Regions from separate parts of the Homo sapiens genome. Here regions 1 and 2 are each linked to region 3. Evidence: fine-mapped expression QTL. A gene starts in region 3. Each other region holds a variant in brackets. All regions are shown on one strand. Distances are from middle to middle. Region 1 holds the start of MGAT3-AS1 (MGAT3 antisense RNA 1). Region 2 overlaps SYNGR1 (synaptogyrin 1). Region 3 holds the start of MGAT3 (beta-1,4-mannosyl-glycoprotein 4-beta-N-acetylglucosaminyltransferase).

What was found. PIP is the estimated chance that this variant, and not a neighbour inherited with it, causes the effect.
Region 1: its variant is fine-mapped to the expression of MGAT3 in testis (GTEx, PIP above 0.99).
Region 2: its variant is fine-mapped to the expression of MGAT3 in whole blood (INTERVAL, PIP above 0.99).

Annotation. Positions count from the first base shown.
Region 1 is chr22:39,472,318-39,482,378 of GRCh38, forward strand. The region is part of intron 1 of MGAT3 (beta-1,4-mannosyl-glycoprotein 4-beta-N-acetylglucosaminyltransferase); the gene reads left to right. MGAT3-AS1 (MGAT3 antisense RNA 1) reads right to left here and starts at 4,505. Exons shown (of 2, transcript NR_126469.1): 1 at 4,141-4,505; 2 at 3,490-3,622. RefSeq lists a silencer at 1,039-1,396 and enhancers at 1,562-2,491, 6,129-6,630. The variant A/T (reference allele first, on the strand shown) is at 5,148.
Region 2 is chr22:39,379,014-39,389,074 of GRCh38, forward strand. It overlaps SYNGR1 (synaptogyrin 1), which reads left to right. Exons shown (of 4, transcript NM_004711.5): 4 at 2,683-6,562. The coding sequence ends at 2,901. Among named protein-coding and RNA genes, the nearest start is that of TAB1, 16 kb to the right of the region's middle. RefSeq lists a silencer at 5,771-6,065. The variant C/T (reference allele first, on the strand shown) is at 5,079.
Region 3 is chr22:39,451,843-39,461,903 of GRCh38, forward strand. MGAT3 (beta-1,4-mannosyl-glycoprotein 4-beta-N-acetylglucosaminyltransferase) reads left to right here and starts at 5,170. Exons shown (of 2, transcript NM_002409.5): 1 at 5,170-5,715. RefSeq lists a cis regulatory region at 726-1,274, silencers at 5,096-5,155, 5,886-6,155, 6,166-6,295 and an enhancer at 6,616-6,815.

The DNA.
Region 1 (10,061 bases), 20 kb after region 3:
CGGTACTTTGTCAGAGACTCGGGGTCCCGCCGTGCCGAGAGTGTATTTCTGAGCTCTTCCATGCATATAGTGTTCCTTGGTTCCCTATCCTCGTCCCACTGAGAATGTCCAGTAGCCCCTCTGGGAGTCGGGGTGCAGTTCTCGGGAACCCTCCCACACAGAGAGGGAGCAAGGCGAGGCTCACAAGAGATGGACCTGCTTTTTACTGAGCGCTTGGCCCTGACAGGCTCTCCACCTGTAAAACCACAGTGTCCCTACCTCCTCAAGCACCTGGCACCTAGGAGTGGCTCTGGGAGGGTGGGGCTGCCCCTCACTGCTGCCTGGTTACCTGTTTCACAAAGGAGGAGACTGAGGCTGGAGAGGTGAGGTGACCTAGCTGGAAAGAGGTGGAGCCAGGAAACCAGCCCAGATGGAGGGCAGGGCCAGCATCTGGCGGGACAAGGTTAGTTCCTCCTGCAGTCATCTAACTGACACCTGGGCTCAGCCTCTAGGGAGGAAACTGCTGCCATAGAGCCTTGAAAGCCAGGCAGAGGGGACTAGACACTGTGCCTCAAGGCAGGTATGGGCCGGTGAGGGAAGGAGGCGGCAATGGCTGGGAGGGGCCCAGGCAGGGGTCGGGCAGCTGCAATGCGGGCTGGAGTCTTGGGGAGTGTGGGCCACAGGGAAGGGTTGGATGCATGTCACTCACAGGGAGGGCCAGGGCTTGTCAGTTTGACTCACTGAACTTCGGTTTTCTCCTCTGTGAAATAGCAGTGGGAGGCGGATGTCCACACGAGATTAGAGAACAGCTAAGATACTGAGCACAGCCCCGTCAGAGGGCGGCTCTCGGGGAGGCCTCAGATGTGCTGTCCTCTCATTCCCCTCCTTAGTCCTGTGTGTGCTGCTACCACAGAATACCTGAGACTGGGTGGTCTGTAAACAGCAGAACTTTCTCACGGATCTGGAGGCTGGGAAGTCCAGGGTCGAGGAGCTAGCATATGGCGAGGGCCCTCATGCTGCGTCATCCCATGGCAGAAGGGCAGAAGTATCCACACATGGAGACGGGCAGGGCTGACCGCATGCAGTTATCAGGAACACGATAACTAACCCACTTTGAGCCCATGCTGTTATCAGGAACAATAACTAACCCACTCCTACAATAGCAGCATAAATTCCTCCATGAGGGTGGAGCCCTCACGGCCTAATCACCTCTTAAAGTCCACACCTCAACACCACTGCACTGGGGATTAAATTTCCTACATGTGAACGTTGGGGGACACATTTTTCAGACTATAGCACCCCCTACATGATTACAGGCTGGCAAGGGGAAGCTGTGGACACAGGGGCTTGGGGATCCCTGGGCCTGTGGCCAGGCCAGGCTAGCTGGAGGCCAGGATCAGGCAGACAGCAGCAAACAAACTCCCCAAGGAGGTGGTGCAGGTGGCATGGGACCCCTCGCTTGCTTGTCTCCAAGTTCCGGGTGATCGGGGCTAGGGGAAAATAATGGGGGTGGGGGGATGGAAGTTAAGGGGAGGAGGGGGGATGGATGAGGAGGGCAGCCTGGATGGAGGTGTGTGGGCAGGGGGCAGATGGATGTGGAGTGCCAGCTCCAGGGTAGATCAGGGCAAGGTTCTGCAGTGTGGGTCAGGATCCAGGGCCTCCGGAGCCTCCTGGAGTCTGGGCCTCACCTTGGAGTTTTCCTGACTTTTTGGACCTTGAGCCTCCTTTAAGCTGCAGGAGACCCAGACACGGCGCACTGTCCAGGGTGACCCGTTCCTGTTGGAGTTGGGTAGTGGTGGGAAGGGCTGCCCTGGGTACCCTTGGCCTTGCAGGGAACTCTGGGCTCTGGGAAACATAATTTCAGCCTGGCCTTGCAGTGTGCCACCGGGGTGCTCACATGGTTTCAGGCTGGTGAGGGGCTTAGGAGGTTGGCAGGATGGGCAGATGCAGCTTTCCTGGGCAGCGAATCCGATCATCTACCAGAGCTGGAGAGCCCTGTGACCTGAAAATGGCAGGCCCATGGGGTCCTGATGGCAGTGGGGGTGAGAGGGACCCTTGCCTTGGGCAAGGCTGAAGGCAGCAGCCTGGACTTTGCCCCTGAAACTCTGAGAAGCCCCAAGGCCGCAGGTGGGTGTGGACTCTGCTGCTGTCACTTGCCAGCTGCGAGTTTGAGGCCCTGTGTGCCTGTGGGGGTGGAATGAAGCGAGGCCAGTAGTGCTACAGTCTTCACATCACCCCCAACCCTCTCACAGCCCCAAGCACCTTCCCTGCACACTGGCCCAGCCCTCACGGGCTCCCACTGCCTCCTGGCTCTGCACACAGCAGGTCTGTGGTCATGTGTGGCCCTGCAGAGGGGACCCTTTTCCTCTCCCTGAGAGATAAAGAGCCCTGTGCCTGAAATGCCACCAGCAGTACTCATTCCTCTGGCTAATCCCAAACATTCACTGAATATTTGCTCTGGGTGCTTCGGGCAGGAGCCACTGCTCACTTCTGGCCTGGCCTGTTCCCCCAGGCCAAGTTTACATCTCTCCATTCCAGGCTTTGTGTGTAAGAGGCAGTCAGAGCCCTCGGGCCCTCCTGAAATGTGCATATGCACCACTAGCCCCGGCTGGGACATCCGCCCTCTGCTCCCTGATAAGGTCCCTCTCTGCCTGGACTGGGGACTGAGGATCCGAGATGGAAAAGCCCCAGCCCAGCGCCCCTGCCTTCCTGGAGTCAGAGAGGCCTGGGTTCTGCTTGTGGTGCGGCCTTCACCAATCACCCCCTCCTCAGGGCCTCCATCTCCCTGCTGGTGTGGAGTGAGGGATGAATTCACAGCAGGGCTTGCCAGGCTTTTTTTTTTTTTTTTTTTTTTAACTGTAGAAGCTTTCCTTCCAACAAAATCTTGCGAGGAGCTCAGTGTCTGAAATTGAAAAGCTGGGAGCATCTTCTTGATTGTGTTTTTTGGGGGCGAGTCCCTGGGCTTTGTTTTCTCTCCCCCTTCACTCCACCTCTCTCTCAGGTCCTGGGGCACCTGGAGGGGAGTTCCAGGGACCTGGCTGGGAAAGAGCTGTCCTCAGTGCCCATGGGACCAGTCCATGGGATGTGTCTGTACATCTGTGTATCGGGCCCTGAGGCCCACCTTTAGCCCACCTCCCCTCCCGAGGTCTCCTTCTGCCAATCACCTGCCTAATGCCCCTGCACCCTGGTGTCAGGCAGCCCCCCAGAGCTGCATCCCTCCCTCCTGTAGTTAACCAATGCTCTATGAGCCTCTCTCAGCCAAGACCTTGGCATCAGCTCACCACTGCCCCGCCCCTGGCCCTCCCCTTCATCACGGGCCGTCTCTCAGGCTTGGCGCCCTGGGATGCTCCCTTGCTCCAGCTCTGTGACTGTCCCCATGAGGGTCCTCCCTCAGTGCAGCCCCATCTCTCCAGCGGTGCTGGCACGATGGACCCGGTTGACTCCCTGCCTCCTGCCCTCTCCGTTCAGTCTAAACTGCACAGTCTAACGTAGGAACCACTAGAGCATGCAGCTATTAAAATTCAAATTAAATTAAGCTGGGTATGGTGGTGTGAGACTTGTCCCAACTACTCACGAGGCTGAGATGGGAGGATTGCTTGAGTCCAGGAATTCACATACAGCCTGGGTAACATAGGTCTCGTCTCTAAAAAACAAAAACAAAAACATTATGGAATGAGCCTCTGGGGATGAGGAGCTGATGTCCTGAATGGACCAGTGACCAGTGCAGGAGGGGTGGAGTCCTAGCAGGGGTAGATCCCAGCTTTGGGAACCAACTTTCCCAGGCACTTGCCGGCCACTCCGTGGGAAAGTCCTCAGGCAGCCTGCAGGGAGCTGGGATCAGCTGATGGGGATGGGTTTGGAGGGGAGAGAGTGGTGCACAGGGACTGGAGGTGGGGGAGGGGTGGGGTTGCCATGGAAAGGGCTCTTGGGATGGGTCTTGGGCTGAGCCTTTGGCAAGGCCTCCACCCTGGAGCTGAGCCAGCAGAGAGTGGGGCTGACTCCATGAGGCCCAGACTCTCGTGGGTATTCTGGTGGCCTGGGCACCCTGTCTTTCCTGAACCCTGCCTGCCTAATCTAAGAACTGCTCCCCTTGTAGCTCTGTCTCTCCTCTGTTGGCCTAGTTTCTTCATCCATGGGTGGGCACAGCAGAAGCTGTCTCACCTGCTCCATGGTGAACGGGATTTGCAAGGATTTGACTCTGGCCATCCAGGGAAGATGGAGTCTTTGACCAGGCCTGGCCCCTGAAGCAGACTTCTTCCTTCTGAGCCTGCTGGGGAAGCAGAATTCCTCGATGCTGGGTGTCATGGTCTACCAGGCCCTCCCTCGCCCAGGCCACTTGTGTTGAGCCTGGAGCAGAACCCCCAGATCTGTAGTCCGCCTGTCAGCTTGGGGAGTCTCCGTTTCCGTCTGTTTCATTCCCATCAGCTGTGTGTGGCTGAGCAAGTCACTTAACCTCTTGAGGCCTCCATGTCCTCATCTGCAAAATGGAGACACACATATCTGCGTCCCCGATGACCACCAGTAGCTGGGATGATACGTCGACTGCAGAGTGACCACTTTGTGTAGGCGTCCCTGTGGATGGTTGTCAGTCAAAGGAGTGAGTCAGATGATGAGAGGGGAGGACAGCAGAGCAGCAGTTGTTTCTTCAGTCTCGCCGGGACTCCAGGATCGGCCATGTTCTGCAGCCACCGCCTCTACCTGTCTCCCCATGTGGGATCCTGAAACCTCAAGCTGCATTTAGTTTCAGAGTCCGGGGAGGTGCTCACTGTCTTCTGACTCCTGAGATGCCGACTCCCTCTGCCATACCCCAGGGAAGGAACCAGTAGCAGAAGCTCCAGGGAAACTGATGAAGGTCAACAGAAGGAAGAACTTCTAGCAGCCCAAAGGGATTGGAATGGGCGGCCCGTGGGAGTGGACATGCAGAGGCACTGGCCTGGGGTGAAGCCTTGGACCAAATTCTTACTTGCAGGCCCTCTGGACCCAGGAGAGGAGTCTGCAGGCCTCGGCTGGGCCGGATTCCGCAGATTCTGGCCTAGGTCCTGAATGCCTGGTGAGTTACTGAGAAAGGCCCTACAGGCTGAGGGTGCCAGTCAGGGTGAAGCAGCCCCGCAATTGGCCCACCTCCTTTTGTACCTTAACAAAGGTGTCTTTGTTACCTTTCTTAAAGG[A/T]AATAAAGCCGGTCAGGAGCAAGGCCTGGCATATTCAGGGGGTCATCTGTATTTGGTCGTCCAGCGGGAAACCCAAATGGAAGGAAAGAAAAAAAAAAAAAACCATGCATTTATAGAACCTCTGCCAATGGCCAGGCTCCATGCAGAATGCTTTGACACCGTGGCTCAGCCAGGTCTCCCACAGGACTGCAAAACAGAGGGTGACATCTTTCTTTTAGATCGGAGAAGACTGAGGACCAGAGAAGCTAAGTAACTTGCCAAAGGGCACACAGCAAGTAAGTCATGGCACTGGGATTCAAACCAAATCCTCCAGACTTCCAGTAACAGTGGAGCCGGCGTGTCCTGAGCATCTGTTGTGTGCTTAGGCATGGTCCCTAGCTTTTTGCGGGGATTAACTCACTCAACTCTCACAACAACCCTGTGAGACAGAAACGGTTATACCTCCGTATCGTGGAGGGGGAAACTGAGGCACGGGGAGGCAGAGTGACTTGCCAAGGCCACAAGCAGTGTTCGGATCTGGCCATTGTGGCCACTGGCCTACCTTGTGCCCCAGGAGCTGCTGTACATGGCAGGGATTGCTGCAAAGATGTGCCTCCTGCCTTCTTTTTGGAGGTGGCAGAGCCCTTAGGTCACATGGGGCAGGACCAGGCCGGGTGGAAGGTGAGCACAGGGAGACGGGCTTCAGCGCGAAGCCCTTTCGTACAGTTGAACTAACTCCTGGAGAGGTAGTGCGGGTCCACCCCAAGGTGTACCAGGGCTGGGGGCAGTGGATGGGCTACTTCCTGCCCAGAAGTAGAGACTGAGGTTGTTTCTGGCATCCTCCAAAATGCCCCTCATGGACATTACAGGGATGCCCTGAGTGCCCACTGGGTGTTGGGCCTGCTTTACTGCTGGACATGTGACAGCTGGCCCCTTCTCCCAGTTGGAGGAGTGCCCAGTGGCTGTCCCCCAGCTGAAGACGCCAGACATCAGGTGTTGAGGGGCAGGCGGAGAAGGGGCCAGAGGGTGGTGGACAGGGGAACCGGCTGTTAAGACATGAGCCGTCTGAACCACGGAGGTGGGTGGCAGGGGCCAGGGTGAGGCCAGCCAAGGGCACCCTGGGGACTGAGCTAGGACTCTGGCCAGCACGGGCAAGCTCAGGACCACGGAGAGCTCCACAGGAGCCGCCCTTCACCAAGCGACAGCTGTCAGTGTGAGTCTGCACCTGGGAGGCTGCTACCTGCCTGGCCAGCTCCCACCATCACAGCCAGTGGCCTCCAGAGAGCACCTCCCTTCTCCCTGGCCAGAAGCCCCTGGCTGGGCTCCACCTGAGTCCTGACTATGAGGTCATGGCTGGGTCATGGAGTTTGGGCTCATCAGCTTCCCTCCCTCACAGCCCGTCAGGCTTCCAAGCAGAGCTAGAGAAAAATGGCACAAGAAGTGGGAAGAGGGAGGGAAAGAAGGAAATCTGTCCAGCTCAGACCCTCCAGGCCATGGCCACTGCCTGAGGCCTGCCTGCTGCCATCCTGGGTCAGCCTCAGCCTCCCTCTTCCAGGATCACCTGGCTGCCAGGAAGCACCTGGCCCATGCTCTACCACCTATCCCAACAGACCCAGGACCGGCCAGAGGCGGTGGCCCACGCTTGCAATCCCAACACTGGGGGGCCGAGGTATCACTTGAGCCCAGGAGGTCGAGACCAGCTTGGCAATGTAGGGAGACCTCCTCTCTACAAAAAAATGTTTAAAAAATCAGCCGAGTGGTGGCACACACCTGTAGTCCCAGCTACTTAGGAGGCTGAGGTGGGAGGATCACTTGAACCCAGGAGTTTGTGGCTGCAGTGAACCTTGACCACCCCACTGTACTCCAGCCTGCCTGGGTAACAAAGAAAGACAAAACCCTGTCTAAAAAAATTTAAAAAGTCACAGGCCCCTGGGGCTGGGCACAACTTACGGGGTGTCTGGCAGCGGGGTGGGGGTGGAGCCTCAAGCCCCCCTTTTCTTGGAGTCTCAGGAGGCGTGGCTTCCCAGCCCCTGGCCCCTCCCCACAGCAGGTTTAGGTTTTGCTCCCTGTTGCCCTGAGATAGGACAGCACCCACCTAGGCTTAGGCCCTGCCAGGGACTCACCTCCAAGCCTCTGCTTCTGGTGTGTCCCCACCCAAAGGCTCACTCTTTCTCTTCTCTGCCAGGCTGGGGAATAATAATAGAAGAGCTAGCACTTATCATTGAGTGCTTACTGTGTGCTAGGCATCTCATCGATGGGAAAACAGAGGTACAGAAAAGTGCTTAACCTGCACAAGGCCACACAGATAGGAGTGGCAGAGCTGGGATTTGAACTGGGGAGTCCGAGCACATGGAAGTGATGGTGAGGGCATTGTGGAGGCCCAGGGCAGTGCGGGGTGATCTCATTGAGCACCTGCTGTGTACATTCCCTGCTCTAGGGAGCTTATATGCCAGCTGGGAAGACAGACATCTAGGGGAAAATGAGCCTAGTGTTGACTGGGGCTGGGGCCGTGCATAGTTCTCTCTGATTCTTACTTGAAATAAGCAGGGCAGAGATAATGATACCCATTTTATACATGGAGGAGTTGAGGCTGAGAGAGGTCAGGTGACCTGCTCTGTTCATAGTGACTATAGGAACATTGATGATGATGAGGAGCTGGGGGAGGTTGGGAGAGTTCGGGATGGGCTCTGGCTTGGGGCAGAGGCAGGTGCTTTGGCTCCAGGGAGGCTATCTTGGCACAGAGCAGGCATCTGAGAAATACTAGGTGAATTTTAACGAACTGAGTAAGAGCCAGAGTATGGCATTTGTGCTAACAGAGATTAGCCTTGGTGGTGGGAAGGAGCTGGAGAGGGGTTTTGTCCTCAGAGAGCTGCCTGCCTGGGTCACAGAGGGCGCCCAGCCCAGGGAAGGCCCTAAGCCCTCGCTCAGTTAACCTTATTCCCCAGGTAGGTCCTAACCACAGTGACCCTCCTGGCTTCCTGAGCTGCTGGAGGACCTCAAGCCACGTACATCCAGGGAAGTAGGTGGGAGTGGGACAGTGGGCTGGACGATGTCCCCCACAGTGCTTTGAGGCCACAGGGGGACCACAGACAAAGCATATCCCACCCCGCCCATCCCTCAGGTGAAGCTTCTAGACAGCATGCTGCAGAGAGGACCTGAGGTTTGGATCTAGAGACAAAGGTTAGCCCAGGACCTGCTGCTAGCCAGTGTTTGACCTTGGCCATGTCCTTCACGCCCAGCCTCACTGTTGGTGTCTGCAGGAGGAGAAGTAGTGGTTAGGGCTAGGCCCTGCAGAGACAGATGCTGGCTGCAAGCCCCAGGTCTGCCAGATAGGGCCAGCCTCCTCCACCCCAGTCAAGGGCTGGTCCATTCTTCCAGTGCCTGGGGCCACCCAGTGTGCTGCCTTGCTCACATCCAGCTCTTCAGCAAATCCAGCAGAATCTGAGCACACTCTACACCCTACAACCTGGTGGAAGCCACCCTGACTCACCTGGGCAGTTCAGTGTGGCCTCCTGGCTTCCCCTGCCCTGCCCTTGAAGTGCCCATTCATTCTCAGCAGAGCAGCCAAAGTGAGCCATTCACACCAAGGTCAGGCCATGGCCTCCCTTCTCTGAATCCTCCAGTGAAAGCCACACTTCGAACCATGCCTCCAGGCCCTGTGATCTGGGTTTGTTCCCTGCCCCCCATGTCCCCTCACTTGCTCCGTCCCACCCGCCTTGCTGTTCTTCACTGGCGCACATACACTCCTGCCAGGGCACTGGTTGTGCCTTCTGCCTGGAACATTCTTCCCTGGCGCCCTCTCCTGCGTGGAGTCTGCTCACGTCGCCTCCTCGGTGAGCCTGCCCTGCCCACTCCATTCATCACTGGACATAATGACGCACTCGCTCCTGCCCGTTACCCGCTTTGTCTTTCTCCAGAGCACAGCCTCTTTGGGCGCGCAGTTTTCTGAGCTGACTAGTGTGTTTGTAGTTTACGCAGGCTCCCTACCCTGTTGGGTGCTGAGCAGGTTCCCTGAGGGCAGGGATTTTGGTCCGTCCTGTCTCCCCATGTTCCCAGTACCCACCGAGGTGCCTGGCACACGGGGCTCTGGCAAAATCGTTGCTGAGTGAATGAGTGACGTGGGTTGGGTGAGCACCCTGTGGCATGTTGTATGGATCAAATGCCCCAGGGCTGCACCATCCACTGGGTTGTCTTCACTGGTCACAGGTGGACTCCTCAGGGGCTCTGTCACTCTACTTGGGTTGAACTTGGCAGCTGGAAGGGGCTCAGGACAGCTTTACCACTGGATACAACCCCGTGATTGACCCTATAGGATCCAGTATGATCCTTCTATTGTGCAATGCTGTGCAAGCGACATCATCTCCCTGGCCTCGGTTTCCTTATACAAGGGTACCTGCTTCGTGTTGGGAGGATTCAGTACAGTCACGTGTGTAACAAGCTTAGGACAGTGTCTGGCATGTCAGCCTCAGTGATAGTTTTACTGTTACACCTGATGGTTTGTCAATGCTTTGTTATTTTTGCTTTTGAGATAAGAGTCTCACTCCCCTGCCCAGGCTGGAGTGCAGAATTGCGATCTCTCAGCTCACTGCAGCCTTGACCTGCAGGGCTCAAGCAGTCTTCCCACCTCAGCTTCCCAAGTAGCTAGAACTACAGGCACATAGTAGTTCTGCATGCCTGGCACTGCTAGAAAGTAGGCACTGCTAATTTTTTTTTTTTTTTTTTTTGTAGAGACGGGGTTTAGCCATGTTGCCCAAGCTGGTCTTGAACTCCCGGACTCAAGCAATCTGCCCACCTTGGCCTCCCAAAGTGCAGAGATTCCAGAGGCATGAGCCACTGTGCCCAGCTTTGATGAAGCTTTGTAATGGAAGCTGAAATGCCACCAACTGGGGCCCAGTTTGGTTCCATGGCTTTAGCCCACAGCTGGGCCACCTGCAC
Region 2 (10,061 bases), 73 kb before region 3:
GTAGAGCCAGGGAGCTCGGGGAGAACCGCGTCTACAGACATTGCTCTCAAGGTTCATTCAGTCAGTTCCTGTGGGCTGGCCAGGGCTCAAGTGTACCCTCAGGGGGCTCTTCACCTCCCCTGCTTCTTCAGGCTCCGGCGTCTGAGCCCCCAGCAGCCAGGACCTCATGCTAACATAGTGGGAAACCCCAGAGGGCTACACCTTATCCCTTAGCCCAATTTCTTTAGACCTAGTCTGCCTTTCCCAAGGTGCTGGCACTTTGCTTTAAATACCCACCTCCCAGAAAGTGCTTCCCCTCAGAACTTTGGTCAATGAGTACAATCAAAAGGTAATGCCCTAGCTGGGCATGGTGGCTCATGCCTGTGATCCCAGCACTTTGGGAGGCCAAGGCAGGCGGATCACCTGAGGTCAGGAGTTTGAGACCAGCCTGGCCAACATGGCAAAACCCCGTCTCTACTAAAAATACAAAAATTAGCTTGGTGTGGTGGCGGGTACCTGTAATCCCAGCTACTTGGGAGGCTGAGGCAGGAGAATCACTTGAACCCAGGAGGCAGATGTTGCAGTGAGCCAAGGTTGTGTCATTGCACCCCATCCTGGGTGACAGAGCGAGACTCTGTCTCAAAAAAAAAAAGAAAAAAAAAAAGGAAATGCCCAGTCACTGGGTTTCTGGAACTTTGTGGAATAAAACGCTAGGTATATTCACTCTCTACCTCTTCACTAAGTGGCTCTTTAGGTTGTTGGTTGACTTAGTGCCTCGTCAGGGGCCAGTGAAAGGGAAGGAGGTGAGGGCGCCCTGACCTGGGAAGGGGTAGGACCCCATGTTTAGGGAAGGGTTCTAGCAGTAACTCTGCCACGGGCACTTCCTTTTCTAGGCCTCAATCTTCCCAGCCCTAAAACAGGGGTCTGGAGAGTATCAGCACATTCCCATCACAGGCAGATTCCCCGGGCCGGGAAAGTTTCTGGAGAAGGCTTTTGCAATAAACCTCTAAGCTGCTTTTCTAATGACAAGTTTGATTTACTTAAACTTTGACTTAGCTCAGTGTGGTCAGTGTCATTGTCCTTAATAACAATGTAATTGCTTTTATTGAAAAATAATTTCCTAACCATGCATGTGTGCTGTAGACAAGTCTTTCCCAATCTGAGATCTGTGAAAAAAAAAAAAAAAACGGGGCGGCTTCAGGCTAGGCGCGGTCACATTGAATAGTCAGGGCTCTGCCAAGTCAGATGATCCTGAAACTTGTTTCACTCTATTTAACTCAGTTTCTCACTTAGAATTAGGTTCAGCAGCAGGTGACCGAAATCCCAGATAACAGTGATTTCAACAAAGTCCAAGGCTGTGGAAGTGGTCCAGGGCTGGCATACTGGCTCCAGAGGTCTTCGGTGACCCAGGCATCTTTCCTTTTTTTTAGAGACAGGGTCTCACTCTGTTGCCCAGGCTGGATCATAGCTCACTGCAGCCTCAAACCCATAGGCTCAGGCAATCCTCCCACCTCAGCCTCCTGAGTAGCTGGGACTACAGGCCAGTACCACTATGCCCGGCTAATTTGGTTTTTGTGGATTTTTTTGGTAGAGATGGGGTCTTGCTATGTTGCCCAAGCTGGCCTTTTTTTTTTTTTTTTTTTTTTTTGAGACAGTCTCACTTTGTTGCCCAGGCTAGAGTGCAGTGGCGCTGTCTCAGGGTACTGCAACCTCCGCCTCCTGGGTTCAAGCGATTCTCCTGCTTGCACCTCCCGAGTAGCTGGGATTACAGGTGATGCCACCATGCCCAGCTAATTTTTTTAATTTTCAGTAGAGATGGGGTTTCACCATGTTGGCCAGGCTGGTCTCAAACTCCTGACCTCAAGTAATCTGCCCATCTTGGCCTCTCAAAGTGCTGGGATTGCAAGCATGAGTTGTCGCGCCTGGCCTCTCCTGCTTTCAAGAAGAAGATCAGATTGTTATTGTGCCTGCTGTTTTTCAAGTGCCTTTAACTCAACATAGTCAATATGCCAGAGGTGCATATTTTAGCCCAGGCTGGTCTTGATCTCCTGGCCTCAAGCAATCCTTCCACCTTGGCCTATCAAAGTTGTGGGATTACAGGCATGAGCCGCGGTGCATGGCCCCCAGGCATCTTTCATTCCTACAGACTTGGCTCATGGTCTTTGTGGTCCCTTTTGGCAATTAGAGCTCCAGCCATCACATCTGTGTTCCAGGCATCAGGTCAGAGGGTGGGACAGAGAACATGAGGGTACCCCATTGGCCAAAACGTAGTCACATGGCCATGCCTAGCTGCAAGAGAGACAAAAGAATGACTCTTAGGAGATGCTAACAGTCCTTTGTCCCGCTGAGAAGCTTTTTTTAAGAAGGCTGTTGTGAGCCTTTGAGCCATCTTAACACTCCATAATGGAGATCTAGAACTTTTGGTAGCCCAGACTGACCTCTGGGATTGGGAGACAGGGGCAGGTGATTTCTGGGGTACTTTCTGGCTGGATGATATGGTTCTGGGCATTTCCGGGGGTGGCTGCGAGAACAGCCTTCCTTCTCCACAGCCAAGCTTGGTCTCATGTTTGGTGCTTTGAGGATCTTTAACCCTCTCCTGCCTGTGTCCTGTGAACTAACCACCACTAACCCAGTGCTCTTGTCTGTCTCTCCCCTAACCACCCCCTCCCGCCTGTCCTTGTCCTCGCCGGCCTTTGTCCCCAGGCGGGCCAGGCTGTGCTGGCCTTCCAGCGGTACCAGATTGGCGCCGACTCGGCCCTCTTCTCCCAGGACTACATGGACCCCAGCCAGGACTCCAGCATGCCTTACGCGCCCTACGTGGAGCCCACTGGGCCGGATCCCGCCGGTATGGGCGGCACCTACCAGCAGCCGGCCAACACCTTCGACACCGAGCCCCAGGGCTACCAGTCGCAGGGCTACTGAGCCACAGTGACCGCCTGCCCCCGCCCCTCCCCATCTGTCCCCTCTCTCCACACCCAGCCCCTGCTCCTGCCCAGGCTGCCCTGCCCAGCGCCTCATCAGCCTCTGCCTTGTCCCACTGAGGTCCAGGGTAGCTCGGGGCAGGGGTGGGGCAGTCCAGTGTTGGGGACTGTCTACGTATGTGCAAGTATATCCCAGGGCATGTGCCCCGCAGGGGCCTAGAGGGTGGGGGCCAGGGGTATTTGCATTCATACATTGTGTCATCAAGCATTCCTTGAGCGCCTACTGGGCATCCGGCCTGTGCTGGGCATGGGTGGTGACATTGGCAGAAATGGCCACTGGAAAGGGGAGCGATGAGCTGTGGAGGAAGCCCTGGTGGTACCAGAGGCCAGAATGGTGGGAAAGACAGATCCAGATAATGCTGGGAAGTGTGGCTACACCGTGGCTTGGTCATAGGGTGAGTGTAAACACCCACAGGACACTGGGGGCTGTCACCCTGCTCTGGCAGTCCTGCTAAGAGTGTCAGGGCCGTCTCCATTTTATGGTTGAGGAAACTGAGGTCTAGAGAGGTCAAGATTACTTGCCCAGAATCACTCAGGCAGCTAGTGATAGAGGTGGGGCCAAGCCCAGGCTGCCCGACTGCAGACCACGTGCTCTTCCCTGGCCACCCACCTCCTACCATCCCCACGCTTGGGGCTTCCCTGCTCAGTGTTACTGTCATTCTGGGAGGCCTTGGGGCCCTCAGCCCCTTGAGACACCCTGATTCTGCTGCATGCCAAGGGCCTGTTCTGCCCCAGCTGTTCCTCCTCCCCTGGGGACAGCCCCACCTCCGGGTCCCTCCACCCACATCCCCCTGGTCCTACCCCTGGCCCTTGGCCTCCTCCAAGAGGGCTCACCCCGGGTGCTGCTCTGTGCTCTGCGTGTCCCACAGACGCTTGTTCCAGGGGGCTCCAGCAAACCCCTTCGTGGTCTCTCAAAGGACTGATCACTGTCCTTGCCTCTAGGAGGGGTCACTAAGCCCTTACCTAGGGCTGGGTGGACAACAAGGCACAGATGAGGGTGTGACTGGCCCGAGGTCACGGTGAGTGAGTGGCAAAGCTGGCCCTGACGCCTGGGTTTCTTGGCCCCAGCTGCCCAGCAGGTGCCTCGATTCCCTGCCCTTGTGACCTCCCAGGAAACAGAACTGATCTGGGACACTATGTCACCTCTCCTCTCATCTGGGGTCAGTCAGGGTTCGGGGGCTGCAGCAGCCAAGCGCATGAGAGGTGTTTCCTTGGCCTTCCAGAAGGCCCACTGTGGAGCCAGCCTCCCTATGGGAGGCAGAGCGGCAAGGACAGGGCTTTGGAATCAGCCAGGTCGGCTCCTGGGCTGTGGCCGTGGAGAGACACTGCCCCCAGGATGACACAGGCAAGAGCCCCTGAGGCATGGGAGGCCCAGGGAAGACCATGGGCTGTAGGGGAGAGTGTGGCAGGTGACCCAAAGGCCCAAAGAGGGCCGTGGGGCCTGAGGAGGTCATAATCTCTTCTGAGTGGGGGCAGGTCGATTCTTGCACAAGGTGGGCTCTTCACTGAGCCATAAGGGACAGGGAGGTATGGGAGAGCGCTGGGGGCCCATCCCCCTGTCCACCCAGTGTCCACTGGCCTGTCCTTCAGGGAGCAGAGCAGAGCAGGTGGTGGACGGGCCCAGTGCTGGGTGTTTTCACCACCATCCCCCCATCCCCCATCTAAGAATCCTAAGAGGCAGGCGATCCCTCACCTGCTTACTCACTCAGCAGTTACCCGGCCCCTGTGCTGGAGATACCAAGGGCATGGGTGGTCCCTGCTTCGATGGCCCCAAAGCTGGGCCAGAGTTAAGGGAAAGAGGAGGAAGTCCTAAGCAGAGAAGTAGCACCATTATCCCCATTTAACAGAAGGGAAACTGAGGCTCGGCAAGCATAGGCGAGTTGGCAGTGGAACACGGATCTAAACTCAGGTGTGTCCAAGTCCTCCCAAAGGACAGCAGTGATGGAGAGGACCCCAGCCAGCTGTGTGACAGCTGGTTGTTGCTGACTTCATTTTCCAATCCGGAGAAGGGGCTCTGTCCACAGTCCCCCGCCGCCAGGTGGCCCACATGGGACCAGCATGGGGGCAGGTTATCTGTTGGCCTGAAGAGTGAAACCTGTACCAGGCCAAAGGTGAGGG[C/T]GTGAGTGAGGGCAGGAGTGTTTATGGCAGAGTGAAGTTCTGTGCCCACCACAAGAGGCTGTGAGATGTTCTGACCCTCACCCACTGTCCACCAAAAGCCTCTCCTGCTGATGGGCACTAGGAGACCTCAGGGTACTGCCCATCTGTTTCTCCTCGGGTGCCAGCCAGCTGCTGGTGATCCTCAGCCGGAGGGCAGGGTACCAGGTAAGCTTAACTCCATCTTGGGTGTTTGTGACAGGCCCTGCCTGCCACCCTAGGCAGGGAAAGCTGTCAAGACTCCTGCCAGGAATGGGGGGTGCTGAGTCATCTCACGAAGAATCCCTCACTCTTCCCGGGTTCAGCCCAGAAGCCCTTCCAGGCATGATCTTCCCCATCAGGCTGGGCTCTGGCAGGGACCTGCCCAGGATGGAGATGAGAGAGGGTGAGAGATGGAGGGCGAGATTTGGATGGGACCCAGGGCTCCTGACTCTGCCCTGGAAGGTTCATGGGGAAACTCGCTCCTTCTGTTGGCAGAGGACAGCCCCTGGGGAACCCCAGGCCCAACTCTGTCCGGTATCCCTTTTCCTCCCAGCTGCCCTCCCCTACTTCTCCCTTGCTCCCAAAGCTTTCCTTGGAGAAGGGCCCTCCTGCAGCTGGACCCTGCAGGGTGGCTCCCTCCTCCCCATCAAGCACAAGAGAGGGCCCAGGAAAAAAGGTTTCACATAAGTGTAGAGTCGCAAGGACGCTTAGAGTCGGCAGAGTCTGGGGTAGGGAGACAGCGACTTGTCCAAGGTCAAGCACAGAGGGAGAGGTTCAGGAGTCAGGTCTTCTGCCTTCTGAGTTGGCTCATCCTGGGCAGTCACAGACTGTCCTGCCTGCACGGCTCCTATCCACCTGGGGGTGTCGCAGTTGAGGGGCTAATTCCCAGGGGACTGACGTTAGTTCCCTACTCCATCCTTCCCTGGTGATTCTTGATCTTCAAAGCCTCGGGGATCCCAGGTTTCCCCATGTAACTGAGACACCCTGCCTGTTAGCCCTGGGAGACCCCTAACCTTGGCCCAAGACCCCTTTGATTCTCTAAGGAGCACGAAAGGGGGAATGCCCCTCCCAGGAGTTTATGGGAGAAGGGACTGGGCCGGCTGCCTCCCAGCGATGCACTTGACCTGACACTCCCCATGTCCTGGTGCGCACAGCCCTTGTCGGTGCCCCGGCCCCTCCCGCAGCGTTACTGCCTGTGTATAGTATAAATATATATATTTTCTATATATAAGATGTATAATATAAGGCTCCACAAATATATCTGTGTGTGTGTGTGCGTGTGTGTGCGGTGAAGGGCGGTCCCCATCCTGGGCCCCCACTCTAGACCCCCCCACCACCTGGTTAAGTCTCGAGTGAATCCAGTGGCCCCGTGGCACCCTCCTTTATGACATCCATCCATCTGTGGTGAACCAAGTGAAGGTGGTGACTTCTGGTGACATAGTAATAAAGTGAAGACTCAGAACCCACCAGCGATTGCAAGTGTGTCACCGTGTTTCTTTGTTCTTCATTCTGCGTTTGGCTTGGATGCTCCATCCCGTTTGTCTCCTTAGACAGGCCATGTCTTACTTGGTTATTATTGTTTGTTAATTTTTCATTACACAATGAACCTATGAATATATTATCTTTTTAAAAAGTAAAATTGGCCGACTGCAGTGGCTCATGCCTGTAATCCCAACACTTTGGGAGGCCAAGGTGGGTGGATCACCTGAGGTTAGGAGTTCGAGACCAGCCTGACCGACATGGTGAAAACCTGTCTCTACTAAAAATACAAAAAAAAAAAAAAATTAGCCGGGTGTGGTGGCAGACGCCTGTAATCCCAGCTACTCGGGAGGCTGAGACAGGAGAATCACTTGAACCGGGGAGGCAGAGGTTGCAGTGAGCCAAGATTGTGCCATTGCACTCCAGCCTTGGCATCAAGAGCAAAAATCCATCTAAAAAAAAAAAGGAAAATTATTACAGTTGAAGCCAGAGTCTCTTAGCTTACATGTGCACATGTCCACATACATGCCCCATCACCATTTCCTATCCTGGTTCCTTCCCCAACCACCAGGAGTAAACAAGATTAGATGCTTGGCCTCATTCCTTCCAGACCATTTCCATGCTTTTACATACACATGTTTTACAAGACATGGTTTTTAAATTGACTGGCCTTCAGCTGGGTGCCATGGCTCATGCCTGTAATCCCAGCACTTTGGGAAGTCAAGGTGGAAGGATTGCTTGAGCCCAGGAGTTCAAGACCAGCCTGGTCAACATAGTGAGACCCCGTGTCTAAACAAAACAAAACAAAAAACCTGGGCACAGTGGCTCACACCTATAATCCTAGCACTTTGGGCAGCCTAGGCGGGCGGATCACGAGGTCAAGAGACTGAGACCATCCTGGCCAACATGGTAAAACTCCGTCTCTACTAAAAAGACAAAATTAGCTGGGCGTGGCTGGGCGTGGTGACTCACACCTGTAATCCCAGCACTTTGGGAGGCTGAGGTGGGCAGATCACCTGAGGTCGGGAGTTTGAGAACAGCCTGACCAAAATGGAGAAACCTCGTCTCTACTAAAAATACAAAATTAGCCAGGCGTGGTGGCACGTGCCTGTGATCCCAGCTACTCGGGAGGCTGAGCCAGGAGAATTGCTTGAATCCAGGAGGTGGAGGTTATAGTGAGCCAAGATCATGCCATTGCACTCCAGGCCTGAGCAACAAGAGCAAAACTCCATCTAAAAAAAAAAAAAAAAAAAAAAATTAGCTGGGTGTGGTGGCCAGCACCTCTAGTCCCAGCTACTCTGGAGGCTGAGGCAGGAGAATCGCTTGAACTCGAGAGGCAGAGGTTGCAGTGAGCCAAGATCACGCCACTGCACTCCAGCCTGGCGACGGAGTGAGACTCCGTCTCAAAAAAAAAAAATTAAATATAGTTGCCCCGAGCCGGCAAAAAATTTACCCAGAGCCTGTAAAGTACCAGAAACTTGCTAGGCGCTAGGAGTTCAACACCAAAGGAGGTAGACAGTGCCCTCTTGGAGATGATCACGCAGTGGGGGAAATGCTGTTAACTAAACATGCAAGCAAAAATATCAACTGTGCTAAGTGCTGGAGTGGGTTGGAAAGAATATGCGATGCAATTTAGATCACCCTGACTAAATCAACCACCACCGGTCGAGCAGGTGACCCTCGACTCAAGCGCTCTCCATGAGCAGGGTTTGGACGTGAGCGGGTGGGCTGGTGAGTTATCCAAGCTGGTGAGTTCTGCAGGGAGGACCCAGGACTCAGGGGTCCCCGGCTGGGAAAGAGCTTGGAAGTGGTGGAAGGCAGGTGCAGTGGACGCACAGAAGGGAGAGAGAGGAGAATGAGGAAGGACAGGCCAGAAGGTGCTCATGGATCCCACAGTGTAGGGCCTGGAGGCCTCTGTAAAGCCATGAAGGGTGGGTGACCACAACAGTGCATGCTCTCAAAAGACCACTCTGCTGGTTAGATGGTAGTCAAGAGACAGGTCACCATGACCGTGAGAGAATGGAGAAGTCCAGATGTATTTGAAGAAGGCACAGATCTGCAAATGAACCGAGGCCGGGCACGGTGGCTCACGCCTATAATCTTAACACTTTGGGAGGCCGAGGCAGGAGGATCACTTGAGGTCAGGAATTTGAGACCAGCCTGGCCAACATGGTGAAACCCCGTCTCTACTAAAAAAATACAAAAATTAGGCCGGGTGTGGTGGCTCACGTCTATAATCCCAGCACTTTGGGAGGCCGAGGCAGGCGGATCACCTGAGGTCGGGAGTTCGAGACCAGCCTGACCAACATGGAGAAACCCTGTCTCTACTAAAAATACAAAAATTAGCCGGGCGTGGTGGTGCATGCCTGTAATCCCAGCTACTCAGGAGGCTGAGGCAGGAGAATAGCTTGAACCAGGGAGGTGGAGGTTGTGGTGAGCCAAGATGGCGCCATTGCACTCCAGACTGGGCAACAAGAGCGAAACTCTGTTTCCAAAAAAAAAAAAAAAAAAAAGCAAAAATTAGCCGGGTGTGGTGGTGGGCGCCTGTAGTCCCAGCTACTTGGGAGGCCGAGGCAGAAGAATCGCTTGAACCCAGGAGGAAGAGGTTGCAGTGAGCTGAGATCGCACAACTACACTCCAGCCTGCGACAGAGAGAGACTCTGTCTCAAAAAAAAAAAAAAAAAAAAAAAAATCCCACCAGAAAAGGCTCTGGAGCCCAGGCCGGGTGGGAGGAGCAAGTGGGCGTGGCCTGGGCATGGCCCGTCGGTCAAGGTACTGGCCCTGCCCACGCCCGGGAGAGGGGCGGGCGAGAGAGATGCTAAGCCAATCGGATTGCGGTCATCGGGGGCGAGCGGAGTCTGCAAGAGGTCCGAGGAGTAGCGGGTGCCGAGGGAAGGAGCGCGGCGGGGCGGGTGAGGGATCCCGGGGCTCCGTTCCAGGACACCCAGGTTCTGACCCCGTTTAGGAGTGCGGAGGGCAGGGGCTGCCTGCAACCCAAGGAGCCCGAGCTACCCTGAAGGCCGACCCTGAGGCCGCTGCTCAGCGAGAGGAGCCGACCCTTGGGGGACAGCGGGGTCGGGTTCCAAGCCGGGGCTGCTGGGGCTGGTCAGGCCGCCCGCCCTGCTTGACCCCTCTCACCTGATGGCTCCCTTCTCCAATCTTCAAGAAGGTGAAACGTCACTGTGGTCCGCAGAGGGCAGGCCGCGTGTGCGGAGTCGCTGTCATCCCTTAGTGGCCACGCCCGCCTCCCTGTCCACTTCCCGTCTTCGTCGTTGCGGTTCAGGTGTTCGCTCCACTCTGCGGCACCAAAGGCCCGTCACGTGCTTCCCCTGCCCAGACACCCCAAACACCGAAACTGTCATCCGAAGGCCCCGCACCTGCCGCCTGTCGGATGCTGAAGAACGAATCCCAGGTGGAGAGGACAGCACCCCAAAAGGGATGGGGGATGGATTGGGGCGTCTGAGCCCCGTGGAGTATGTCAGCCTT
Region 3 (10,061 bases):
CTCCGTCTCAAGAAAAAAAAAAAAAAAAAAGAGATCAAGACCATCCTGGCCAACTTGGTGAAACCCTGTCTCTACTAAAAATACAAAAAATTTGCTGGGCATTGTGGTGCACACGTGTCTTCCCACCTACTCGGGAGGCTGAGTCAGAAGAATCGCTTGAACCCGGGAGGCGGAGGTTGCAGTGAGCCAAGATCACACCATTGCACCCCAGCGTGGTGACAGAGTGAGACTCCGTCTCAAAAAAAAAAAAAAAAAAAAAAGGCAGAGAAATTGCAAGCATTTCAGAGGGCTGCCAGTGGATGGGACAAGCTCAGCTGAATGGAGTGTATGTGGGGGAGGGTAGAAAGGGGACAGATCTGACTTCACCTGGCCAGTGTTGGGGAAGGAAGTCGCCAACAGAAGAACAATGAGTTTCACAAATTTGGAAAGGAGAGCTTTATTTCTCATAAAGGGTTGCAGCCTGCAGGGCAGCCATTCTGACAGGCTGGGAAGCATAGCTTCCAGCCAGAAGCCAGGAACACATGCTTCAAGGGAGGGGCAAAGGGAACAGGAATTTATACAGAGCAGGGTGGCTGAATATACATATTTAATAAGCTATAGGGGGAGTCATGAATATTGATGTAAGGAGAAACAGGGACCTGTGCAATTAAGCTTCATGCCCCTTAGTGAGTCACACATGCAAAAAAATGGTGGCGTTAGTGTGATCGCAGGGTGTTTTTCAGCCCTCTGATGTCAAAAGGTGAAGCACAGGACCCTACTGTGTGCCAGGCCTCTGTGAATGCGGGAGGGGAAAAGAGTGACAGGGGCTATGTGGGAGGAAGGAATTGGGGGCTGTGTCCCCTTCTGGCCAGCTCTCAGGCAGGCTCCTGGCACCACAGGGCCTGAGCTGGGAGGGTAGAGGGTGGAGGGTGGGGCCTGGTGTGCCTGGCTGTGCCCGGCTGTGCCCAGGGCTGGCTGTGTGCGACTGAGCAAGTCACTTATCTCTGACGAACACCTTCACTGGGCGTCCACTTTAGACTGTCTGGACAATGGTTTCTTATCAGGAAGGGATGATGGTCAGTTATTGTGTCAAAACTGCAAAAGAGGGATAGCATCGGACAGCTGGTTGGTATCAGTGGTGAAGTCTTTCAAAAGGGCTGGTTTCTGGCTAGCCCTAACCGTCAGCAGGCTTTCTTCCCTAAGGAAGGGGTTCAGGAGGGGCTGTATCGAGGAGTGTCTGACCTCCCATTCTGTTGTAGCCAAGCACTCAGCTTTCAAGGTTTCTCTGGGGTTCCCTTGGCCAAGACGGGGGGCTGTTGGGGGGCTTGGGATTTCATTTTAATTTCTCAAAGGACCCTTTATCAAACACCTTCGGTGCTGCCCAGCACCACCTTGTCACACATCCCACCTCCCTCACCCTCCCCACACGCTGTCAGGTGGCCACCTTTATGCCCACTCTGCAGACCAATGGGCCTAGGCTTTGAGTGTGGAGCCCTGGCGCAGCTCGGAGGGCCCCGACCGGAGCCAGCTCACTCTGCCCACTGCACCGCCATGCTCCCTGACCACCTGGAGCCTTGGCAGGGCTGGGGCTTGATGGCTTGGTTCTCTCTTTCTTTCTTTCTTTCTTTTTCTTTTTCTTTTTTGATAGGGTCTCACTCTGTTGCTCAGGCTGGAGTGTAGCGGTGCGGTCCTAGCTCGCTGCAACCTCCACCTCCCGAGTTCAAGGGATTCTTGTGCCTCAGCCTTCCCAGTAGCTGGGACTACAGGCATGTGCTACCACGGCCGGCTAATTTTTGTATTTTTAGTAGAGATGGGGTTTCACCATGTTGGCCAAGCTGGTCTCAAACTCCTGGCCTCAAGTAATCCGCCTACCTTGGCCTCTCAAAGTGCTGGGATTACAGGCGTGAGCCATTGCGCCTGGCCTGTGGCTTGGTTTTCATGGCATGGGTGAGGAGCCTCCCCACCTGGAGACCCAGGGCCAGGAGTGAGATGCCCCAGGGAGGTGGAATGCGGCTCCCACAGGCCAGGCAGCAGCTGCTGAAAGGGTAACAGACCTAGCAATTGTTCCCAGAGCCAAAAAGGCCTGGGTGAAAGGGGACAGCAGGGCTGTAAGGAGACACCGCCTGAGATTGGCTAATCTTGTATCTGGGCTTTTCCCACCTCCAGCTCCCACAGCCTCCTTGTCAGGCAGCTCAGCCCCTAGAGGAGCAGTGGGGCAAGAGGGCCACCAACCACCCTCCCCCATATCACCATGGAGCTTGGAGCCCCAGCCTCCCCCACGTCATCGTGGGGCCTGGAGGACGGCTGGGAGAGGATGGAGAGAACCAGATTCCATTGATGTCAATGCGATGTCAGGGCAGTGATTCGTCCCATTCTGCAGATGAAGATACTGAGGCTTAGGGATTGAAATGACTGGAACACTTGGCGAGCTGGCATAGAACCCAGGTCTTAAGCTCCCTGGGATTCAGCTTCTCCACCTGCTGAGCACCTCCGTGCCTACTGTGTGCCAGGCCTCTGTGAATGTGGGAGGGGAAAAGAGTGACAGGGGCCATGTGGGAGGAAGGAATTGGGGGATGTTTACCCTTCTGGCCAGCTCTCTGGGAGGGAGGCTTCTGGCACCACAGGGCCTGAGCTGGGAGGGTGGAGGGTGGGGCCTGGTGTGCCCAGCTGTGGCTGTGTGACCGAGCAAGTTACTTATCTCTGACAGGCTGGGCGTGGGGAAGATGTACTTGCCACACAGCGCCCAACACACTGAGTGCCGCATTGAGGACATGGAGGCGGACTTTGGTATGAACCCAACAAGGCTGACTCCACTTCGGCCTCCCAAGAAGCTTGGGAATCTGGAAAGGTCAGGAGAACAAAGACCCAAGCTGGGGGAAGATGGAGAGCAAGCAAGTCCCCTGACCCTGGCCAGCTCTGGGCAGGGCAGCTTCCCTGGGGAGTGGGGCGTGTCTTTACTTCTCACTGGGCCTCAAGGGCAGGGGCTGGGGCTTGGGCAGGTCCTCCTCCCCTTTGCCAGGAGCAATGGAAATGGAGGAATGTGATTATTTTGTGCCTGCCTTCGTGCTTGGGGGCCAATGTCAAGGTTTTCTTGATGCTCAGAACGAGTTCAATGGAGAATCCAGACTTGAAACAGCACTTCTTTCATGGGCTGAGGGACGCCCAGAGTTGCTGCTGAAGGCTCAGGGAGGGAGAGAAGGTTCTGGGGAAGGAAAGTGTCTGTGAGGCGGTCCCTTCCAGAGGGGAATGAGTCCCAGGCAGGGAGAGCTGTGGCATGGGGAATTGGGGGAGGGGGACACATTTGAGCAGAAATTGAAGGTTCTTTGGGGGCCGGAGAAGAAGGGGCAGAGAGGGTTGAACAGCCAGGCTGGGGAGAGGAGGAGGGCAACATTTTTGCAGGGCAGAATAGACTGGATTTTGGGGGAGTGACAATTACCTTAAGCACATGTCATGGAGATGATTTATTTTTTTTTTGAGATGGAGTCTTGCTCTGTTGCCCAGGCTGGAGTGTAGTGGCATGATCTCGGCTCACTGCAACCTCCGCCTCCTGGGTTCAAGCAATTCTCCTGCCTCAGCCTCCCGAGTAGCTGGGATTACAGGCGTGTGCCACCACACCCGGCTAATTTTTGTATTTTTAGTAGAGATGGGGTTTCATCATGTTGTCAGGCTGGTCTTGAACTCCTGACCTTCTGATCCACCTGCCTCAACCTCCCAAAGTGCTGGGATTACAGGCATGAGCCACCATGCCCGGCCCATGGAGATGTTATAATGGAATGTGCTTAGAGTGATAGGAACTAGGAATGGATCTTACACTTTCAAATGGTTGGGAAAACATCAAAAAATGTTTCTGGACACGTGAAAATGACACGAAATTCAAATTTTTGTGTCCATAAAGTTTTATTGGAACACCGCCAGGCTCATTCTTTTACGTATTGTCTATGGTTGATTTTATGCTACGATGGCAGAGTTGAGTAGTTGGGACAGAGACCATATGGCTGGCAAAGCCTAAAAGATTTACAATCAATCTCTTAAAGCAAATGGTTTGCCCACCCTTGCTTAGAGAGAGCCTCCAGGAAGAAAAGAGCAGTGAGGGTGACGTTGAAGAAGGGGGCAAGACTAGGTCACCAGGGGCTCCCTGTGCCCCGCCCAGGCACTGAACTTAAGCTGAGGGCAAGTGGGAGCCATTGAAGGTGCAGGCAGGAGAGTGACCTGCTCAAGTGAATGTTGGAGTAGGATCACTCTGCCTCCTCAGCAAGGATGGATGAAGCTGGGCACGGAGGCACCTGGAGCAGGTAGACCAGCCCTAGGCAGCCCGGATGGTTCAGCAAAGGCCTCTGGGACTATTCTGGAGCACATTCGCTGGGATATAGAATAGGTAGCGCATCCCTGCACCTTCGACGATGGCGGCGCAGAGATGTCTGCTGCGTACCCACAATGCCTTGTGCCTCGCACCGCGGGAGGAAGTGGCTGCTCTGTAGGCCCCAGAACGGAACCACTTGAAAGGCGGGAAACACGTGGGGGACGCCTCTGAGCCCTGAGAGGAATGGCCTAGAGCAAGGCCACGAGGAGCCAGGGCACGACACGGTGGGCCCTCGGAGAACCGCTGGTGGGCAAGTGGCAGGAGAGTAGGCTCAAGAGGGTTGGCAGGGCCGACCGGGCCTAGGGTGGCCGGGTGAGGGGGGCGGGGGAGGGGAGGCCCCCCCAGTTACCCCAGGAGTGCGCAGGTGGCTTCGGGCATGTGAGGGACGGAGGGGGTCGGACGGAAGGACACAGGCCGGTGTACAGCGGTCACCCACGCCCCAAGCAGACACACAGACTCTGCAGACACCGTAACAGGCCCGGCACCGTGCACACATCACAGGCCCAGGCCTCTGCACATGGTCACAGATGCCTATGCGAAATCCCGGCCCAGGTTCACGCGGGCACAGGCGCATCCACGCACACACCGCAACACGGATCTGCACGTCCATGCACACACAGGCACAGACTCGGGCACACGGAGTCACACCGACCCGGGCACGCTGCGGAACGCACCCGTCCACGCATACACAGAACGGGACTTGCTGCCCCGCACGCACACCAGGCCCGCACTCCGAACTACCCGCATTCCCCGCACACGCCCCCGCGCAGGCCGCCCCGGGCCGTGGGCCGGCGCACGCACGGTCACAGGAGGGGCGCGCGCACACTCGCACTCACACACACTCGCTCGCACACGCACACACTCGATCCAGCACGCGCGGGCGGCGCGGGGCGGCGGCGGCCGGAGTCTGCGGTGCGAGGCGCCCCCGGCCCGGCGCGGCGGCGGAGCCCGGCTGGCGGGGGAGGGGAGGGGGTTGCGGAGGGGGCGGGGTGGGGGCCGGAGCCGCTTGAGCCGGCGGGAGCGGGCACCCCTGCGCGCCGCGCTCGGCCTCGCCTCCGCGCCCCCCGCGCGCCCGCCGCGGTCCCTCCCCCGCGCCCGTCCGCTCGCCGGGCCCCCGCCGCCGCCCCGGGGTGCAGCCGAGCGGCCGCGCCGGGTCCCCGGGACGGGGTGGAAGTGGGGGTGGGGGGAGGGGATCGGGGCCGGGCCGGGGCCGCGCTGCCTGCGATGCCGGGCGCCCGCCGCAGCCGCTGCCGCCGGAGCCCGGGATGGGGCGAGAGGCTGCGGCGGACGCCAGCATCTCCCCGCCGGGGACCCCGGGGGCCGCGGAGCCGCCGCCGCCGCTGCTGCCGCCGTTGCTGAGACCCAGCGGGCGATGGGTGAGTTGACCCCGGCGTCCTGGGGGGCGCCGCGGCCCCTCTATCCCCGCGCTGCCCGCCCTCCCGCGCTGCGCTTGGCGCCCCCCGCCCGGCTCCGCGGCCCACTCCCCGAGCGTGACCTTAGGGGGCGGGCGCGGGCGCACTGGGGCTGGGGGCCCGGAGGCCGCGGTGGGGGCGGGATGCCGGGGAAGCCGCTCGGCGCGGGCCCCCTCCCCCTACCCGCCGCTCCTCCGAGCTCCCCGGTCCCCGGAGGGCAGAGCCTCAGCGCCCGACCCCCTCCCACGGCCGGGCGGGGGACGTCCCCGAGGCGCGGGGCTCGAGCCGTGCTTTGTGCGCGGCACCCCCCAGCCTCCGGCGCGGCTCCCCCACAACCTCCGGCGCGGCGCGGGGCTGGGGTGGGAGGCCTCCGCGCCCGCCTTCCCCACCCCCGACCCCAGACTGCGGCGGCGGCAGCCGAGGCCCAAGCGCAGTCGGGGGCTGGGCGGGTGCGGGGGCTGCGGCCGTAGCTACCCCTGGGGACCAGGCAGAGGCAAATGTGGAGAGGGCCCCCGGCCATTTACCGGGGTGGGGGCCCCCGGCTCCTTGCATTGCTCTGCCCAGGGCGGGGGAGGGAACCTGGCTGAGGGAGGGCGCTATAAATATCTGCAAATAGTGAGTTCTGGAACCGGGAGTGGGGAGGGGAGTGCGCCTGGGTGTGTGTATGGTGGGGTTCCTGAGCTGGGGTGCAGCAGGAAGGGATGCCGCGCGGCCAGACCTAGTGGTCTGAGGTCGGATGACCCCCAGCCCCGGAAGATGCCCCTGAAGGCCCCTGATGGGGTGTGGGCAGACACACTACCCCAGTGGGATTCCTCCCTGGTTCCCCACTTCATTCCTGGGACACACCAGTCCAGATTCGCCTTGATGGGGGAGTTGTGAGCACTGGCGTGTCGTTTGGGGAGGGGGAGCAGTTATGAAAGATCCAGACATGGAGCCCAGCAGAAGGATGGAGGGGAGAGCCCCCACCCCCAGGAGCTGCAGCTCTGAGGGGGTTTTCAGTCTAAGGAGTGCTAAGGGGAGCCGCTCTGGGTCCTAGGAAGGTTTGAAAGAGGGGTCCCAGCCCAGGAGGAAGAGAGAGGTTACTGGAAGAGATGACGACAGGAAGCTGCCAGAGATCTCTGGGTAGAGAAAGGTGGGAAGGGCGTTGTGGGCCAAGGGAATGGCATGAGCAAAGGCTCAGAGGTGTGAGTGTCTGGCGTGTGTTGAGAGGTGGCAGTGGGAACAGTCAGGCACTGTGGGTGCCCCCTGGAAGAAGTGAGATGAAAACGGGGCAGAGGCTGGGCAGGGAGGCCAGGTGGAGGTGAGGTGGGAGGGCACAGCAGGGAGCTGGCACTTGGTCCTGAGGACGGCAGGGAGCCAAGACCTGGCTGGGGGGATGCCGCTGGCTCAGACCCATTCTAAGGGTCTGCCTGGTGCCCTTGGTGTGGTCAGGGCTACTTGAGGCACACTGGTGATTCCTTTTTCTTTTCTTTTCTTTTCTTTTTTTTTTTTTTTTTTTGAGATGGAGCCTCACTCTGTCGCCCAGGCTGGAGTGCAGTGGTGCCATCCTGGCTCACTGCAACCTCTACCTCCTGGGTTCAAGCAATTGTCCCACCTCGGCCTCCCGAGTAGCTGGGACCACAGGTGCCCGACACCACACCCGGCTAATTTTTGTATTTTTAGTAGAGATGGGGTTTCACCAGGTTGGCCAGGCTGGTCTCGAACTCCTGACCTCAAGTGATCCACCCACCTTGGCCTCCTAAAGTGCTGGGATTACAGGCGTGAGCCACCTCGCCCAACCCTGATGATTTCTTTTTCTGTAGTAACTGGACCACCTCAGGAAGTCAGCTTTCTGAGCCTCGGTTTCCACATCTGTGAAATGGGGAGGTTTTGTTTTTGTTTTTGTTTTGAGACAGGGTCTCACTCTGTGATCCAAGCTGGAGTGCAGTGGTGTGATCATAGGTCACAGCAGCCCCAACCTCCTGGGCTCAAGGGATCCTTCTGCCCCAACCTCCTGGGTAGCTAGGACTACAGGCGTGAGCCAACACACCCTGCTAATTTTTTAAAAAGTTTTTAATAGAGATGAGGTTTTGCTATGTTGGCCAGGCTGGTCTTGAACTCCTGGGCTCAAGTGATCCTCCTGCCTCTATGTCCCAAAGTGCTCGGATTCCAGGTGTGATCAAATGGGGGAGAATTTTGAATGGAATGAGTTGCAGAGAGGGTTGAATGAGAGGATGCACACAGGGTGCCTGGCACCTGAGCAGCACTCAAGAGATCGCTGGCTGCGGTATTATTACCTGGAAAACGAGGATGCCGATGCCAGCTGGCGGGCCAGGCCAGCTTCACTGGGCAGCGGCCATGAGAATCACGAGAGGGCTGGGCTGGACGTGAACGGCAGAGAGCTGAGGGTGGGGGAACTGCGTGGTCCTCATGCAATTCTGGGAAGACTACATAAGCAGTGAGGAGTGGCCAGAGGCAGGGTGGTCTGCAAAGACAGCCCCTCTTGGCCTCATGGGCACCCACCCGCCCAGCCAAGTCATTCAGGGTATCCTGCTGTGCTCCCCAAGAGCCAGAGCCCCTTTGCTCCCCAGAGTGCAGTGATGCAGCCCCTCATCTTAGCCATCTCCAAGCCCTTCATGTGGGGACCAGGTCTTGGAACACAGTGTCCTCAGGTAGGGGTAATAATTTACTGTGCTGGACAGAGAGGACATAGGCCTTGCCCTGAGGAGATTAGAATCCATTGGGGAGCAGATACCCCTGGCACCGATGCTCCACCTAGCCCTGTGCTGGCTGCTTGGGGGCAAGGAAAGAGTCACTAAAAGTAGGGATTCCAGATCTAGTGGCCCGGTTCAAATCCCGGCCCTGCCTCTCTCACTGTGTGACTGTGGGCTGGTGACTCTGCATCTCTGTGCCTCAGTTTTCTTGTGTCTAAAATGGCGCTGAGGCGAGGCGTGGTGGCCCATGCCTGTAATCCCAACAGTTTGGGAGGCCGAGGTGGGTGGATCACCTGAGGTCAGGAGTTCAAGACCAGCCTGGCCAACATGGTGAAACCCCATCTGTACTAAAAATACAAAAATTAGCTGGGCATGGTGGCAGGCACCTATAATTCCAGCTACTTGGGAGGCTGAGGCGAGAGAATCGCTTGAACCTGGAGGCAGAGGCTACAGTGAGTTGAGATTGCGCCACTGCACTCCAGCCTGGGCAACAGAGTGAGACTCCATCTCAAAAATAAATAGATAAATAAATAAAATGGGGGTGGGGTGCACTGTTACTATTTGAACAGCTTGGCATAGTTTCCAGTGGCCATTTACTGCTCCCTTCCAGAACGAGTCTCCCGATTCACCCCTGCCTCCTTGGAGACTACACCACCTGCCCTTCGAGATGTGTTGTTTACGTGTCCCTGATGTCTTCCTTTTCTGACTGAGTCCCCCTGCCCAGGGACCTGCCTTTCCAGATCCATTGCTCCAACCGGGGGCAATAGTAGGCTGGCAACTGGCTCTCTGGGAAACAAACCCCTGATGAGTTGGCCGATCGCTGTGCTGTAAATCCTCCCCATATGGCTGATTTTAAGCCACCCATGGCCTAACAAGAGTGTCATAATGGGAGCTGGTACGTGCCAGCTTTAGTCCCCAGGCATTCAGCGGGTGCTTAATAGATGATGGTTGAATGAGGAGGAAAGGATGCAGAGAGTGTTGGTCAGCTAGATTTGGGAGCTGCGGGCGATACTGTAGGTGAGAAGGGCTTTCAGGGGGAGGCATGGGAGGGCTGGAGGTGAGGGGCCACCCTGCACCAGCCCTGGGGTGAGGCTTGAGGGAACGGAGAGCTTCTGGTGTCCTCCCCGTCCTGAGACCCTTTGCACCCCTGACCCTGACGCACACTTGCACTAACCCCTCCTTCGAGGGGCTCCTCTCCACCTTGGCCTGGCCTTGGGGTTCTGCACAGAATGGGCCCCAAGCTTAAGCCAATGAGAGCTCAGAGATGTGGCCCAAGCAGGTCCCAAACCTCATGTTCCATTCCCTTGCTGTGCTGTTCCCTCGACTTGAATTCCTCTTCCATTCACTGTCCCCTGTAACTCTGTTGTCCATCAAAAGCTTCCTCATGACCCCCTTCCTCTGTGACACCAGCCCCACAACCCAAGTCAGACAGACCCATCTCCCCTTCTGCTCTTCCCCCGATGCTACAGCCCCTCCCATGTACACGTTCCTGCCTATAAAAATATCAATAGCCAGCATGTGTTGTGTTCCTATGGCAGCCAGTGACAGAGGTTCCAGGATAGTCCCCTCTACAGATGGGGAAATTGAGGTGCAGTCTCTTGTTCACACTGACCCACT